3 separate regions of the Homo sapiens genome follow, and all the other regions are linked to region 3. Evidence: fine-mapped expression QTL. A gene starts in region 3. Each other region holds a variant in brackets. All regions are shown on one strand. Distances are between the middles of the regions. Region 1 overlaps PATL2 (PAT1 homolog 2). Region 2 overlaps PATL2 (PAT1 homolog 2). Region 3 holds the start of PATL2 (PAT1 homolog 2).

What was found. PIP is the estimated chance that this variant, and not a neighbour inherited with it, causes the effect.
Region 1: its variant is the best candidate, but not a certain one, in a credible set for the expression of PATL2 in whole blood (TOPMed, PIP 0.60).
Region 2: its variant is the best candidate, but not a certain one, in a credible set for the expression of PATL2 in whole blood (TOPMed, PIP 0.52).

Annotation. Positions count from the first base shown.
Region 1 is chr15:44,673,958-44,679,182 of GRCh38, reverse strand. It overlaps PATL2 (PAT1 homolog 2), which reads left to right. Exons shown (of 18, transcript NM_001387263.1): 4 at 2,618-2,708; 5 at 3,492-3,697; 6 at 4,953-5,033. The coding sequence starts at 2,693. Among named protein-coding and RNA genes, the nearest start is that of SPG11, 13 kb to the right of the region's middle. RefSeq lists an enhancer at 3,464-3,513. The variant C/T (reference allele first, on the strand shown) is at 2,251.
Region 2 is chr15:44,685,297-44,690,521 of GRCh38, reverse strand. All of the region lies in intron 3 of PATL2 (PAT1 homolog 2), which reads left to right. Among named protein-coding and RNA genes, the nearest start is that of PATL2, 23 kb to the left of the region's middle. The variant C/T (reference allele first, on the strand shown) is at 2,505.
Region 3 is chr15:44,709,081-44,714,262 of GRCh38, reverse strand. PATL2 (PAT1 homolog 2) reads left to right here and starts at 2,940. Exons shown (of 18, transcript NM_001387263.1): 1 at 2,940-3,243; 2 at 3,334-3,392; 3 at 4,049-4,167. It overlaps B2M (beta-2-microglobulin), which reads right to left and starts at 2,746. Exons shown (of 4, transcript NM_004048.4): 1 at 2,650-2,746. The coding sequence starts at 2,716. RefSeq lists an enhancer at 2,263-2,925.

The DNA of each region.
Region 1 (5,225 bases), 35 kb after region 3:
GCTGAGGCAGGAGAATTGCTTGAACACAGGAGGTGGAGGTTGCAGTGAGTTGAGATCGTGCCAATGCACTCCAGCCTGAGTGACAGGCAAGACTCTGTCTCAAAATAAACAAGTAAATGAAAGGGGGCAGGAGAGACAAAGTACAGTTATAGCATGGATTTTTAAATACACTTATACTATGAACAACTTTATGCCAACAAATTTGAAAATTTATAAGTAATGGACAAATTCCTAGAAGATATATAACTTAAAACTCAAGAAGAAATTGAAAGCCAGACTAGATCTACTGCTATTAAAGAACCTGAAACAATGGATAAAAAATCTCCCCATAAAAGAGTGTTTTATGTAGCAAATGTAAATATTTCTAATGTCATTTTTTTTCTTTAAGAAAAAATTTTTAATAGAGATGGGGTCTCACTATGTTGTCCAGGCTTGTCTTGAACTCATGGGCTCAAGCTATCCTCCTGCCTCAGCTTCCCAAAGTGCTGGGATTACAGGTATGAGCCACTCTAATGTCTTTTTAAAATCTGACCCAACAATCCTGTGTACCTGTGTGTACTTCTTATTCTAGAAGAAGCTCTAACAGGCTGTGGGAAGCATCTGCTTTATTCACTGTTTACCCCAAGCCTAACATAGGCTTGGCTTGAACTTAACATAATGAAATGATGGCAGGAAAGTTAGAACATCTAGGGGATCAGTAGACATATGAGACTTCAGATAAGGGTAGGGGACCTTCATAAAAAACAGTAGGTCCCAAGTGAAACTCCAAACAGCCAGGGCAGGGCTGTGATCTTTAAGACTGAGCCCTAGTCCACCTGCTTTGGTACTAGTCAGTACCAGAAGTCCCTTCAGAATGAAAATCTTCATGCAACAAGTTTCTCCTTAAGATCTAGTCTCTACAACAACCTAATGAATCACCTCTGGAACACTGAAATTCACCATGTGGTCCTTTTGTTAATAGTGCTAAAGTACGTTATTAGGAAGTTCCTGAGAGAAACAGCTGAATAACATTACCAAAAAGGCCAGAACCCAGCTGGGTGTGGTGGCTTGTGCTTGTAATCCCAGCCCTTTGGGAGGCCAAGGCAGGTGGATTACTTGAGGTCAGGAGTTTGAGACAAGCCTGGCCAACATGGCGAAACCCTGTTTCTACTGAAAAAAAATATATATATATACAAAAATTAGCTGGGCATGGTGGTGGCCGCCTGTAATCCCAGCTACTCGGGAGGCTGAGGCAGGAGAATCTTGAACCCGGGAGGTGGAGGCTGCAGTGGGCCAAGATCATGCCACTGCACTCAAGCCTGGGTGACAGAGTAAGATGCTATCTCAAGATATATGAGAAGTTTTTCAGTAACTTTCAAGCTACTTATATTTGTTCCCCCACCCATATAGTTATGACCTGCAGTAAAACTTCTGAAACAAATATTTTCCTTTAAAGGCACCAAGAATCATGGTCTTATCACCATGACAAGAGGGTCCTAACTTTCATTTTTGATGTAGGGAAATTAACTTAGTTTTTATTCTTATTCAGAAGTTCTACAAAGTCATGTGGGTTTCAGCTGAACACAGGATGTGGGCACAGAACCCAGGGTTGCTTGAGGGTTAGATGAGACTTGGGAGGGTGTTGGGTTTTGCCTACCAGGAGCAGCTATGTTTTTGTTTTTGTTGTTGTTGATTTGTTTTTACTCCTGAGCTTCTGGACCAGTTTGCCATTAGAGCAGCCAAGAAGATGTAAGACTGTGTATCTCATGCAAAAGTGTTTTTACCATGAAGATCTGACTTCCAAATTCACAGGGGTCTCTCATCAGTCAGAGCTGAGTAGCTGACTTAAGCTCACATGACCCGGTGAAGGGCAAGCATCATCAGGTGGACTTGAGGGCTTCAAGTACGCTGCCCTGAAGCGCCAGGAATGTGGTTGCTAGGCATCCTCCCCAGGATCTACCCAGGACTTTCCTATCCAATTTTGTTGAAGCAAAACCTAGGGATTAAATTAAATGCAACCTCACAAACTACCAATGAAGGGTGTGGAAAACAGGGATCCTCTTTTTAACTATCTGCCCCCAAATATCAATCCCAATAAACTGTACTAAAAGCCATGGATGGCTAAAAATGCAGTTTATGTCTTTTCTCCATTCAAGCGTTTTTTTAATCATTAAACTATGTTCTCATATTTCCATCAGGCCCCAATGGATGGAGGATGCTAGCCCTTTAATGGGTGAGCAGGGGAGGAGCTGGGACTTTTAAAGCCAGGAG[C/T]GGCAAACAGGTCCTGGCCCAGGCTGCTATGAATAACTTAAACAGAAAGGACAGCAACAGTCAGGTGGTGGGTGTCGGCAGCAAGGCATCACCACACTCGGACGGTGACTGGTGATGTCGGTTGGGAAGTACTTCTCTTCCTGCTTCTAGCCTGTGCCTCATTTCTGTCCCTTTGTGGGACAGCTCCCTAGAGCCGAGCTGGGAGGGTGGGTGTTTATGGCAGTCTGAGACCCCAGGGTCTCTCTCCTCAAGACCATGGCCAAGAATTCTCTAACCATCTTGCTGGGAGGATTCCATGGCTGTTTTAGGGTGCCATGTCATCCTTACTGACTGAGGATGGTGCCTCTTGGCCTCTTTCTTGTCTCAGGTTTACCTTCCAGAGGCTGGCAATGCTGTTTCACTGGAGGACACGGCTAAGAAGGAAGTCCACCAGCCTGCCAAGATGAATTGCCTTGAAGGTATCAACAAGTGGGCCGTGATGTTATATAAAATGCCCCAGCATGCAGAGGTTGCTGGTCTGTTTCACATATGGGATTGGATGTCCAGAGTCACTGGAAGTTATTCCAAATTCTTCCACTTGCTAATTATATCATAATGGGTGACTGAAAGGTCACTCTTCTGGGCTTTATTTTTCTCACCAACCTAGTAAAATTATCAACAACAACCCAGGACAGCCTCATATTACTGTTAAATGAACATATGCACGTAAAGTATATGGCACACAGTAGGGTTAAATTGCAGTGAGTCAGGGCAGGTGGAACTTGTTCAAAGAGGCAATAGAAAGGGCGTTGGGTGGGGCAGAGCAGATGGAAAAGGCTGTGCTAGAACTTAATGAAGGAATTGAAGAGGGGATGTGAAAGTGAAGGTGTTTGGTATCTGCCGGGTTCCTTTTGTTTGCTTTTTAAATTTTTTACTTAGAGACAGGGTCTCACTGTGTTGCCCAGGCTGATCTCAAACTCCTGGGCCCAAATGATCTTCCCGCCTTGGCCTCCCAAGTAACTGGGACTACAGGCACGAGCCACCACACCTGGCTCAGGTTCCATTTGACTTACTGGGGGATGGTTCGGGGCACCTTGGGAGAAGGGAGGCCGAGTTAAACCCACAGAACAGGAGGCGTTATGTTCAAAGGTGGTGCTGGAGATGGCTTATGAACAGAAGTGCTATTGAGTAGCAGCCTCTCTAGACAAGACTCACAGCTGAGCCCCATCTTACCTTCTCCTCTGGCCCACACTTAAACCAAGGGCCAGGTAAGACCTGTGGCCCCTTGGCTTCTGAGGAGGAGCTGGTGTCTGCCTGCCAGTTGGAAAAAGAAGAAGAGAATGAAGGGGAGGAGGAGGAAGAGGAGGAGGACGAGGAGGATCTGGACCCAGATCTGGACCCAGACCTAGAGGAGGAAGAGAATGATCTTGGGGATCCAGCTGTACTTGGTGCTGTCCACAACACCCAGGTACCATGGCAGAAGGGAATGGGAGAGGGTTGTCCTGAACTGTCTGTGGCTCACAGGCTGTCACTAAACATTCCTCTTCTCTTTTCTACCCTTTTCTAAGACAAGTTCTGGATTAACACTTTCTTTTTAAGCCTTGAACTTGAGTTAGGGACTCTCTCCTTCCCTCTTTCTCCTGTCTCCCACTTCATTTCTGATGCTGTTCTCGCCTTAAAACCAGGTCCTAGCAGAGCTGTGCATCGCCCACAGGCGGTGGCCCTGCTACTAGCGTTAAAGGTGAGTCACGTTTGCCTGATCCTGGGCCCCTCTGTCTCAGTAGTCCATTCCTGGTATTTATTCCCCTGGATCCCATAACTAGTGGAGAAGGACAAGGACTCCTATGTAGATATGAGGTGATTTCAGAACTTCCTTCAACCTACTACTAAGGTACAGTAGTCCATGGTTTCACTTTCTGCCATTTCAGTTACCCTTGGTCAACTATAGTCTGAAAATAGGCAAGTATAGTACAATAAGGTATTTTAAGAGAGACCACATTCACATAACTTTTATTACAGTATATTGTTATAACTGTTCTATTTTTATTGTTCATTTCTTATTGTGTCTAATTCTTAAATTAAACTGGCCAGGGGCAGTGGCTTATGTCTGTAATCCCAGCACTTTGGGAGGGTTGCTAGAGGCCAGGACTTCCACACCAGCCTGGGCAACAAAGCAAGACCCTGTCGCTACAAAAAAAAAGAAAAAAAATTTTCAAAAATTAGCCAGATATGGTAGCACATGCCTGTAGTCTCAGCTACTTAGAAGTCTGAGGCAGGAGGATGGCTTGAGCTCAGGAGTTTGAGCCTGCAGTGAGCTATGATGGTGCCACTGCACTCCAGCCTGGGTGACAGAGCAAGACCCTGACTCTAAAAAAAATTTTTTTTAAATATATATATAAACTATCATAGGCATGTATATATAAGAAAAAAGCACTATACACAGGGTTTAGTACTATCCAGTTCTAGGCATCCCTTGGGGGTCTCGGAACATATATGTCTCATGAATAAGGGAGGACCACTGCACTAGTCTTATTCCTCCCAGGAGAGGGAGAGGGATCCTGGCCCAGCTGACTTTGAATCTGAGGGAGGGCCAAGCTGCCACTGCCCTGGATGTTGGAACACCTGGTCTTGCTGCTTCCTCCCACCACCTCAAAAACACAGGTGAATGCAGAAGACACTACAGGGGCCCATTTGAGCCTGGTTTTTCCTCCCTCCTGTTCCAGAGAGCTCTGCTTAGCTCCCCTGGAGTCAAGGCCCCTGGTATGCTGGGAATGTCACTTGCCTCCTTGCATTTTCTGTGGCAGGTGAGTCTGCTGCAGTCTCCATACTGTGGGTAGTGAGGATTCCATCTATTATGTTCAGTCTACCCCCAACCCTGGTCTGGAGTTAAGGCACCCAAAGTGAGGTATGGGTGTGGGAGGTGGGAGTTGCCCCATCATAGAGGAGCTTGATAAATGACAGAGGTGGTGTGCCCAAGCAGGGGCATGGATAGACAC
Region 2 (5,225 bases), 24 kb after region 3:
TACCAAAAAAAAAAAAAAAGCCAGGCATGGTTGCGTGTGCCTGTGGTCCCAGCTACTCAGGAAGCTGAGGTGGGAGGATCACTTGAGCCCAGGAGGTGGAGGCTGCAGTGAGCTGTGACTGTGCCATTGCCCTCCAGCCTTGGCAACACAGTGAGACCCAGTCTCAAAAAAAAAAAAAAAATATTTTGACTTTATTTGTGGTTTTATATTTGCCACTCAGCAATCTTAAATTTTTTTGTAGACAAATTTGTCAGCCACCCTTCATAGCCTATGGATTTGGGGTGATAGTTAGAAGGTCCGTCTTTACATTTAGAAAACACTCACTTTTTTTTGAGACGGAGTTTCGCTCTTGTTGCCCAGGCTGGAGTGCAATGGCGCTATCTCAGCTCATGGCAACCTCCGCCTCCCATGTTCAAGCGATTCTCCTGCCTCAGCCTCCCGAGTAGCTGGGATTACAGGCATGTGCCACCATGCCTGGCTAATTTTGTATTTTTAGTAGAGATGGGGTTTCTCCATGTTGGTCAGGCTAGTCTCGAACTCCTGACCTCAGGTGATCCGCCCACCTCGGCCTCCCAAAGTGCTGGGATTACAGGTGTGAGACACCATGCTTGGCCAACATTCATATATTTTCTTTTAGTATTTTTGAGATTTTCTTCTTATTATTATACTTTAAGTTCTGGGGTACATGTGCAGAACATGCAGGTTTGTTACATAGGTATACATGTGCCATGGTGGTTTGCTGCACCCATCAACCAGTCATCTACATTAGGTATTTCTCCTAATGGTATCCCTCCCCTAGTCCCCCACCCCACAACAGGCCCTGGTGTGTGATGTTCCCCTCCCTGTGTCCATGTGTTCTCATTGTTCAACTCCCACTTATGAGTGAGAGCATGCAGTATTTGGTTTTCTGTTCTTGTGTTAGTTTGCTGAGAATGGTGGTTTCCAGCTTCATCCATGTCCCTGCAAAGGACATGAACTCATCCTTTTTCATGGCTGCATAGTATTCCATGGTGTATATGTGCCACATGTTCGTTATCCAGGCTATCATTAATGGGCATTTGGGTTGGTTCCAAGTCTTTGCTGTTGTGAACGGTGCTGCAGTAAACATAGCTGTGCATGTGTCTTTATAGCAGCATGATTTATAATCCTTTGGGTATGTACCCAGTAATTGGATTGTTGGGTCAAATGGTATTTCTGGTTCTAGATCCTTAAGGAATCACCACACTGTCTTCCACAATGGTTGAACTAATTTACACTTCCACCAACAGTGTAAAAGCATTCTTATTTCTCCACATCCTCCCAGCATCTGTTGTTTCCTGACTTTTTAATGATCACCATTCTAACTGGCATGAGTTGGTATCTCTTTGTGGTTTTGATTTGCATTTCTCTAATGACCAATGTTGATGAGCTTTTTTTCATATGTTTGTTGGCTGCATAAATGTCTTCTTTTGAGAAGTGTTTGTTCATATCCTTTGCCCACTTTTTGATGGGGTTGTTTGCTTTTTTCTTGTACATTTGTTTAAGTTCTTTGTAGATTCTGGATATTAGCCCTTTGTCAGATGGATAGATTGCAAACATTTTCTCCCATTCTGTAGGTTGCCCATTCACTCTGATGACAGTTTCTTTTGCTGTGCAGAAGCTCTTTAGTTTAATTAGATACCACTTGTCAATTTTGGCTTTTGTTGCCATTGCTTTTATTGTTTTAGTCATGAAGTCTTTGCCCACTCCTATGTCCTGAATGGTATTGCCTAGGTTTTCTTCTGGGGTTTTTATGGTTTTCAATCTTACATTTAAGTCTTTAATCCATCTTGAGTTAATTTTTGTATAAAGTGTAAGGAAGGGGTCCAGTTTCAGTTTTCTGCATATGGATAGCCAGTCTTCCCAACACCATTCATTAAATAGGGAATCCTTTCCCCCACTGCTTGTTTTTGTCAGGTTTGTGAAAGATCAGATGGTTGTAGATGTGTGGTGTTATTTCTGAGGCCTCTGTTCAGTTCCATTGGTCGATATATCTGTTTTGATACCAGTGCCATGCTGTTCTGGTTACTGTAGCCTTGTAGTATAGTTTGAAGTCAGGTAGCATGGTGCCTCCAGCTTTGTTTGTTTGTTTGTTTGTTTTTGCTTAGGATTGTCTTGGCTATGCGGGCTCTTTTTTGGTTCCATATGAAATTTAAAGTAGTTTTTTCTAATTCTGTGAAGAAAGTAAATGGTAGCTTGATGGGGATAGCATTTTTTTTATTATTATTATTATTTAGCTAGTTTTTTTTTTTTTTTTTGAGACAGAGTCTCGCTCTGTCACCCAGGCTGGAGTGCAGTGGCATGATCTTGGCTCACTGCAAGCTCTGCCTCCCGGGTTCACGCCATTCGCCTGCCTCAGCCTCCCAAGTAGCTGGGGCTGCAGGCACCCGCCACCACACCTGGCTAATTTTTTGTATTTTTAGTAGAGATGGTTTTCACTGTGTTAGCCAGGATGGTCTCAATCTCCTGACCTCGTGATCTGCCTG[C/T]CTTGGCCTCCTAAAGTGCTGGGATAGCAGAGAATCTATAAATTACTTTGGCCATTTTCACGATATTGATTCTTCCTATCCATGAGCATGGAATGATTTTCCACTTCTTTGTGTCCTCTCTTATTTCCTTGAGGAGTGGTTTGTAGTTCTCCTTGAAGAGGTCCTTCACATGACTTGTAAGTTGGATTCCTAGGTACTTAATTCTCTTTGTAGCAATTGTGACTGGGAGTTCACTCGTGATTTTGCTCTCTGTCTATTATTGGTGTATAGGAATGCTTGTGATTTTTGCACATTGATTTTGTAGCCTGAGACTGCTGAAATTGCTTATCAGCTTAAGGAGATTTTGGGCTGAGACTATGGGGTTTTCTAAATATACAATCATGTCATCTGCAAGCAGAGACAATTTGACTTCCTCTCTTCCTATTTGAATACCCTTTATTTCTTTCTTTTGCCTGATTGCCCTGGCCAGAACTTCCAATACTATGTTGAATAGGAGTGGTGAGAGAAGGCATCCTTTTCTTGTGCTGGTTTTCAAAGGGAATGCTTCCAGTTTTTGCCCATTCAGTATGATATTGGCTGTGTGTTTGTCATAAATAGCTCTTATTATTTTGAGATACGTTCCATCAATACCTAGTTTATTGAGAGTTTTTAGCATGAAAGGGTGTTGAATTTTGTTGAAGGCCTTTTCTGCATCTATTGAGATAATCACGTGGTTTTTGTCATTGGTTCTATTTATGTGATGGATTACGTTAATCGATTTGTGTATGTTGAACCAGCCTTGCATCCCAGGGATGAAGCTGACTTGATCATGGTGGATAAGCTTTTTGATGTGCTGCTGGATTTGGTTTGCCAGTATTTTATTGAGGACTTTCACATCAATGTTCATCAGGGATATTGACCTTTGAAATTTTCTTTTTTTGTTGTGTCTCTGCCAGGTTTTGGTATCAGGATGATGCTGGCCTCATCAAATGAGTTAGGGAGGATTACCTCTTTTTCTATTGTTTGGAATAGTTTCAGAAGGAATGGTACCAGCTCCTCATTGTACCTCTGGTAGAATTCAGCTGTGAGTCCATCTGGTCCTGGACTTTTTTGATTAGTAGGCTATTAATTACTGCCTCAATTTCAGAACTTGTTATTGGTCTATTCAGGGATTCAACTTCTTCCTGGTTTAGTCTCGGGAGGGTGTATGTGTCCAGGAATTTATCCATTTCTTCTAGATTTTCTAGTTTATTTGCATAGAGGTTTTTATAGTATTCTCTGATGCTAGTTTGTATTTCTGTGGGATCAGTGGTGATATCCCCTTTATCATTTTTTATTGTGTCTATTTTATTCTTCTCTCTTTTCTTCTTTATTAGTATGGCTAGTTGTCTATTTTATTGATCTTTTCAAAAAAACAGCTGCTGGATTCACTGATTTTTTGAAGGGTTTTTCATGTCTCTGTCTCCTTCAGTTCAGCTCTGATCTTAGTTATTTCTTGTCTTCTGCTAGCTTTTGAATTTGTTTGCTCTTATTTCTCTAGTTCTTTTAATTGTGATGTTAAGGTGTCAATTTTAGATCTTTCCTACTTCCTCTTGTGGGCATTTAGTTCTATAACTTTCCCTTTAAACACTGCTTTAAATGTGGCCCAGAGATGCTGGTACGTTGTGTCTTTGTTCTCATTGGTTTCAAAGAACTTATTTATTTCTGCCTTAATATTGTTATTTACCCAGTAGTCATTCAGGAGCAGGTTGTTCAGTTTCCATGTAGTTTTGCAGTTTTGAGTGAGTTTCTTAATCCTGAGTTCTAATTTGATTGCACTGTGGTCTGAGAGACTGTTTTTTATGATTTCCGTTCTTTTGCATTTGCTGAGGAGTGTTTTACTTCCAATTATGTGGTCAATTTTAGAACAAGTGCGATGTGGTGCTGAGAAGAATGTATATGCTGTTGATTTGGGGTGGAGAGTTCTGTAGATGTCTATTAGGTCCACTTGGTCCAGAGCTGAGTTCAAGTCCTGAATATCCTTGTTAATTTTCTGTCTCGTTGATCTGTCTAATATTGACAGTGGGGTGTTAAAGTCTCCCACTATTATTGTGTGGGAGTCTAAGTCTCTTTGTAGGTCTCTAAGAACTTGCTTTATGAATCTGGGTGCTCCTGTATTGGGTGCATATATATTTAGGATAGTTAGCTCTTCTTGCTGCATTGATCCCTTTACCATTATGTAATGCCCTTCTTTGTCTCTTTTGATCTTTGTTGGTTTAAAGTCTGTTTTATCTGGGACTAGGATTGCAACCCCTGCTTTATTTGCTTTCCATTTCCTTGGTAAATATTCCTCCATCCCTTTATTTTGAACCTATGTGTGTCTTTGCACATGAGATGGGTCTCCTGAATACAGCACACTGATGGGTCTTGATTTTTTTCTTTTTTTTTTTTTGAGACAGAGTCTCACTCTGTTGCCCAGGCTGGAATGCAAAGGCGCAATCTCAGCTCACTGCAACCTCTGCCTCCTGGGTTCAAGCAATTCTCCTGCCTCAGCCTCCCAAGTAGCTGGGATTACAGGTGTGTGCCACCAGGCCCAGCTAATTTTTTGTATTTTTAATAGAGATGGGGTTTCACCATGTTGGCCAGGATGGTCTCAATCTCTTGACCTCGTGATCCACCCGCCTTGGCCTCCCAAAGTGATGGGATTACAGGCGTGAGCCACCGTGCCTGGCAGGGTCTTGACTTTTTATCCAGTTTGCCAGT
Region 3 (5,182 bases):
GGACAGAACATACTTTCCATTATGATCAAATGGAGTAATGCATGTGACAGTGGGATTTGCGTTTTAATTAGCATCCACAGGTGATTGCTGTAAACTAGCCAGGTTGGGAATATATTGCCTAATGTTTCAGAAACAGTACTTTCCAAAATGAGAGGCATGACTAGACCATCCATGGGGAAGTGGGAAGAAAATATTATAAACTCTATATTTTTCATTGAAAATGAAGAGAAGTGTTAGTGCTACTAAATATACAGATTGACACTAAATATATGTGTATAAAATTCTTTTAAATACACTTATATTCAGGGTACATGATCACTAAAAGGCAGCTACTCCTCCTTGTCTGGGAGGCTGTGGGGAGAAGGAGGAGTACCAGGCCACCTTGACCAGATATATCTCTCTAGAAACACCCTATCATTAAGGAAAGGCTACTAGCCCCATCAAGAGGTGGATTGGGGAATCTAATGAAGACCTGATTTTTTTCATAACATTAAAAGCTAAGAGAGCTCTTTGCATCTGAGCTTCTAATAATAAGAACATATTAAATGCCTCAGGGATCAGAGCACAGATTCATCCTGCCTGGAACTCTCTGTTTGAGGGAAGGCGGCAAGATTTTGTGAGAGCATCACTGTAATCTTTTCTAAGAAGAGGACAAGTATCAGACAGGCTGGGTTTGAATTTGGGCTCAACCAGTTACTGGCTTTATGACTTTTGGAGAGTTATTTAAGCTTCCAAAACTTAACTGAAAAATTAATTTATGCCCACAGTAAAACAAAAACAAAACCCACACACAGGTCAGAGGAGGAAAATAGACCTTCAGAGGCAATCATCATTACATGTTTCTTGTGGTATCTTCCAGAAATGGTCTATGCATGGCATGTATTACTTTGGAAATTTTCAAAATAAGATTTTTTTTTAAATATCAGATTGTTATTTTTTAAAATGACATCTAACATAACCAGCAAATACCAGTAATGGTGGTGATATATACATTATCCTTTATGTTGTAAATAAATTGTATTCAAATTAAATGCAATTTTCTCATGATCAAAACATTCTGCTTTCGATCATGTTTTGCCAGAGGAAAAGGTGAGCGCGCTTAGTGTATTGCCAGGTACTTAGAAAGTGCTCAAGATCTCTGGCGTCCTCAACAGTCTTGGTAACCATCTTGGATTATCTTTATTAATGGTTTTACAGCTCCCCTGACTGACAAACCTTCACTTCTTTCTTTCTTTTCTTTTCTCTTTCTTTTTTTTTTTTTTTCTTTTTTGAGAGACAGGGTCTCGCTCTGTTGCCCACGCTGGAGTGCACTGGCGCCATGATAGCTCAAAAGCCTAAGCTCAAGAGATCCTCCCGCCTCAGCCACCGGAGCAGCTGGGACCACAGGCACGAGCCACCACACCCGGCTAATTTTTGTTATTATTTTTTGTAGAGACCAGGCTTCACCATGTTGGCCAGGCTGGTCTCAACTACGGACCTCAAGCCATCCTCCCGCCTCGGCCTCCCTAAGTGCTGGGATTACAGGCGTAAGCTACCACGCCCAACCCCCTCATGTTTTCAAAACCGAAAGTAAGAGGCACAGTACATCTTGGAAACAACCAGGCAAAGAGCCAAAGAGGAAGCCCTCTGTACGAAAAGACCACAGGGCCCATGCCGCCCAGTTTGCTCTGGAGAATCTCACGCAGAAGGCAGGCGTTTTTCTTAAAAAAAAATGCACGAATTACAGCCAAAAGGCATGCGCTCCCGCAAAAGCCCTGGTTAGGCTTGACTTCAATCTCGATTGCTGCCATTTATCCCCTGTGTAATTAAGTTTCTTAAAATCTCGGTGCCTTAGTTTCTTCATCTGTGAGAGGCAGAAGATAACCATAGTAGTTATCTATGGCGGAAGATAACTGTTTTCAAAATTAAATGACGCAAAGCACATAAAGTCCTTGGCACACAGAAAGATGTCAATAACGGGTAGTTCTTATAATTTTTTAAAAGTGACATGTGATGGGAACAAATAAGTTAATTATTCGAAACCGCTTTGTATCACAGCCAAGCATTCTACAAACGTCGCGTGCTGTTTCCTCCCCACGGTGTGGCCCCACATAGACCCAGAGGTGCTAGGACATGCGAACTTAGCGGGCGCCTAGACGAAGTCCACAGCTCTCCAGTCTAAGGGAAGCAGAGCCGCAGCAGACAGGCTTACCCGGGCGACGCCTCCCCCAGACCCCAAGCGCCCCTCCACGCGTTCACAAACCTCAGCGCCGCGCCTTTGGGACGAGCCTACCCGTCCCCCACTCCAGCTGCGCTGGGGGAGCCAGAGGCCCCGCGAAAGAGCGGAAGAGAAACCCTCCCCCAACCTCGGCGCTCTGACGCTTATCGACGCCCTAAACTTTGTCCCGACCCTCCCGTCGCCGTAGGCCAAAGGTCTCCCCTGCTCCCCGCCGAAAGGGGCAAGTAGCGCGCGTCCCGGGTGCGCACCCCCTTCCCCACTCCCAGGCCACCCCGCCGCTTCCCCGAGATCCAGCCCTGGACTAGCCCCACGGCGGGCCACCAAGGAGAACTTGGAGAAGGGAAGTCACGGAGCGAGAGAGCACAGCGAGGGCCACAGAGGGTGCAGAGCGGGAGAGGAAGGACCAGAGCGGGAGGGTAGGAGAGACTCACGCTGGATAGCCTCCAGGCCAGAAAGAGAGAGTAGCGCGAGCACAGCTAAGGCCACGGAGCGAGACATCTCGGCCCGAATGCTGTCAGCTTCAGGAATGCCCGCCAGCGCGACGCCTCCACTTATATTAAACGCGTGCCCAGCCAATCAGGACAAGGCCCGCAGGGACCGTCACCTGTCTCCAAGCCAGCGACGCAGTGCCAGGTTAGAGAGAGGGACTTTCCCGTTTTCAGTTTCCTTTTCTTAGAGTCTCGTGATGTTTAAGAAGGCATGCACTAGACTGGGTGAGTTTGCTGTCTGTACATCGGCGCCCTCCGATCTGGGGTGCGCGCCCCAGCTTGGGACACCGGGCGCTCATTCTAGGACTTCAGGCTGGAGGCACATTAAGGCTGCCCCCTCGCTTTGCAGACTGGCCCCAGAGATGCTAAGTGACTTGCTAATGGTGCCCCAGCCAGTTAACTGCTCGGACCTGCATTTTTCATTCGAGAAAACGGAAACCCAGAAGATTAAGATCTTTGAATGCTACCTAGCAGAAGGAGAACTTCTGTTTATAACTACAGCTTGGGAATTCCCTGCAGGGTTTCTCCATTCTCTGGGTAAGAAAAATAGTCCCAAAAGCATCCTGAGGACAGCTCAGAGAAGGTCCTAGTGAAAGAGTACCTTTCTTGCTTCTTGTATCCCTTCAGGAAAAAGTGTTTGGAAAGTTCTGTGCCAAGAAGTTCCTCCCTATGTCCTTGCTGTTTAGGTAATTTTCTTTGTTCTGTTGATTTGTCGGGGGGCGGGGGGGAGAAAAAAACGACCACTAATAGTAAAAGCAGTAACTGCTAGGGCTTTAGAGCTTCCAGCGCCCTCTAGGTACATCATTCTCTTAGTTTCCACCCTAGAACAGGGGCTGGCACATAGTAGGTACTCAGTAAACCGAATGAACGAATGGATGGATGAATGAATGAATTAGTGAATATATAAATAAACTGTAGGAGGAAAGAATTACCCCCATTCATTTTATGGACAGGGGAAACAAAGGCTAAGAGACTAGAATTCAAACTCTGGCCTGATTCCATTGACATTAATATTTTAGACACTGGAAGACAAAGGGCTCGGCAATTTTAGTGAGAGTTTGGACTGCATCTGCCTTGGACCCAGCCAAGGACGTTAAACATGACAGGCAGACCCATTAAGAAAACCTACCCTCTAAAGTGACCATAAATAAGGTGCCGCCATTTCGTGGTGGTGGAGTCCACAGATCTTTTCTAAGAGGAACAGTGAGAAGAGGAAGTGGACCATGGCGATGGGGAGGGGCAGAGATCTTGGAAGTCACCATGGTTTTCAGTTGAAAGGATTTGCCTAGCTTCCCCAAGGAGCACAACAAATAACTTCTAGGTTTCTTTTACATATTTTTAGGCTTTTGATAATCTTTATTGTGGAGGCCATGCCTAAACTAAGAAAATGCAATACTCTCCATGGACCTAATGAAATGAGATAATGCACAAGAGAGAGCCTCCCACAATGCCTGGTACATAGTAAGTGTTCTGTAGTGTTTAATAAGCGCTATAATTATTAATATTATTTACCTAGTTTTTCTACCAGCCCTCTCAATAACTAAAATATGAGAATAATTGTTATGCCTAAATGTATGAGTTAAGACACTCTTGCTCCCTCCCTTTTCCCCCTTTTAAAAACTCATATAAGGCACTAAAGGCCTGAAATGTTAGTGTTGAGTTGTACTAGAAAAGTGCCTTAGAAGTTTAGCAAGGGACAGGGCTATTTTTGCCTCTAGTTTCTTGTTTACTACATCACAGAGAAACACTAAATTTAAAATCCATTACAGATAGATTCTGATTTACTCACTTGGAAAACCAATTTAAAAACCAATAAAAAACAGTACAGATAGAAAAAAGTCGATTTTACAGTTTTCTTTGGGGGGGAATACCTGTATTTTTCTTGGACTTACCATTTATGACATGTTTTGAATAGTGAGGGGGAAAATTATGTATACAACTATTTGTTTAAAAACAAGAGCACTGTTTGCCTAGGATGGCAAATTTGGGAAGTCTACAAACATGACAATTTCTTTTTTTTTTAATTTTTAATATTTTTGTGGAGACAGAGTCTTGCTGTGTTGCCCAGGCTGGTCTCGAACTCCTGGTCTCAAGTGATCCTCCTTCCCCAGCCTCCTAAAGTGCTAGGATCACAAGCATGTGTTACCACGCCCAGCCACAAATATGACAGTTTAATAGCTTTATCTCCCAGTAGTGCAATTAACAGATTAATAGCGGCCTTTTTTTCCCCTATATAACCCTCTTAAAATTTTTTTACAATGAACATTTATTCAAAGTAGTAAATGTTGGCAAGAATTTAGAAGAACTGGAACTCTCATACAATCCTGGTAGGAATATAAAATGGTATAAACAATTTGGGGCTGGATGTGGTGGCTCACACCTGTAATCTGAGCACTTTGGGAGGTCAAGGCGGGCAGATCACTTGAGATCAGGAGTTTGAGACCAGCCTGGCCAACATGGTGAAACCCTGTCTCTA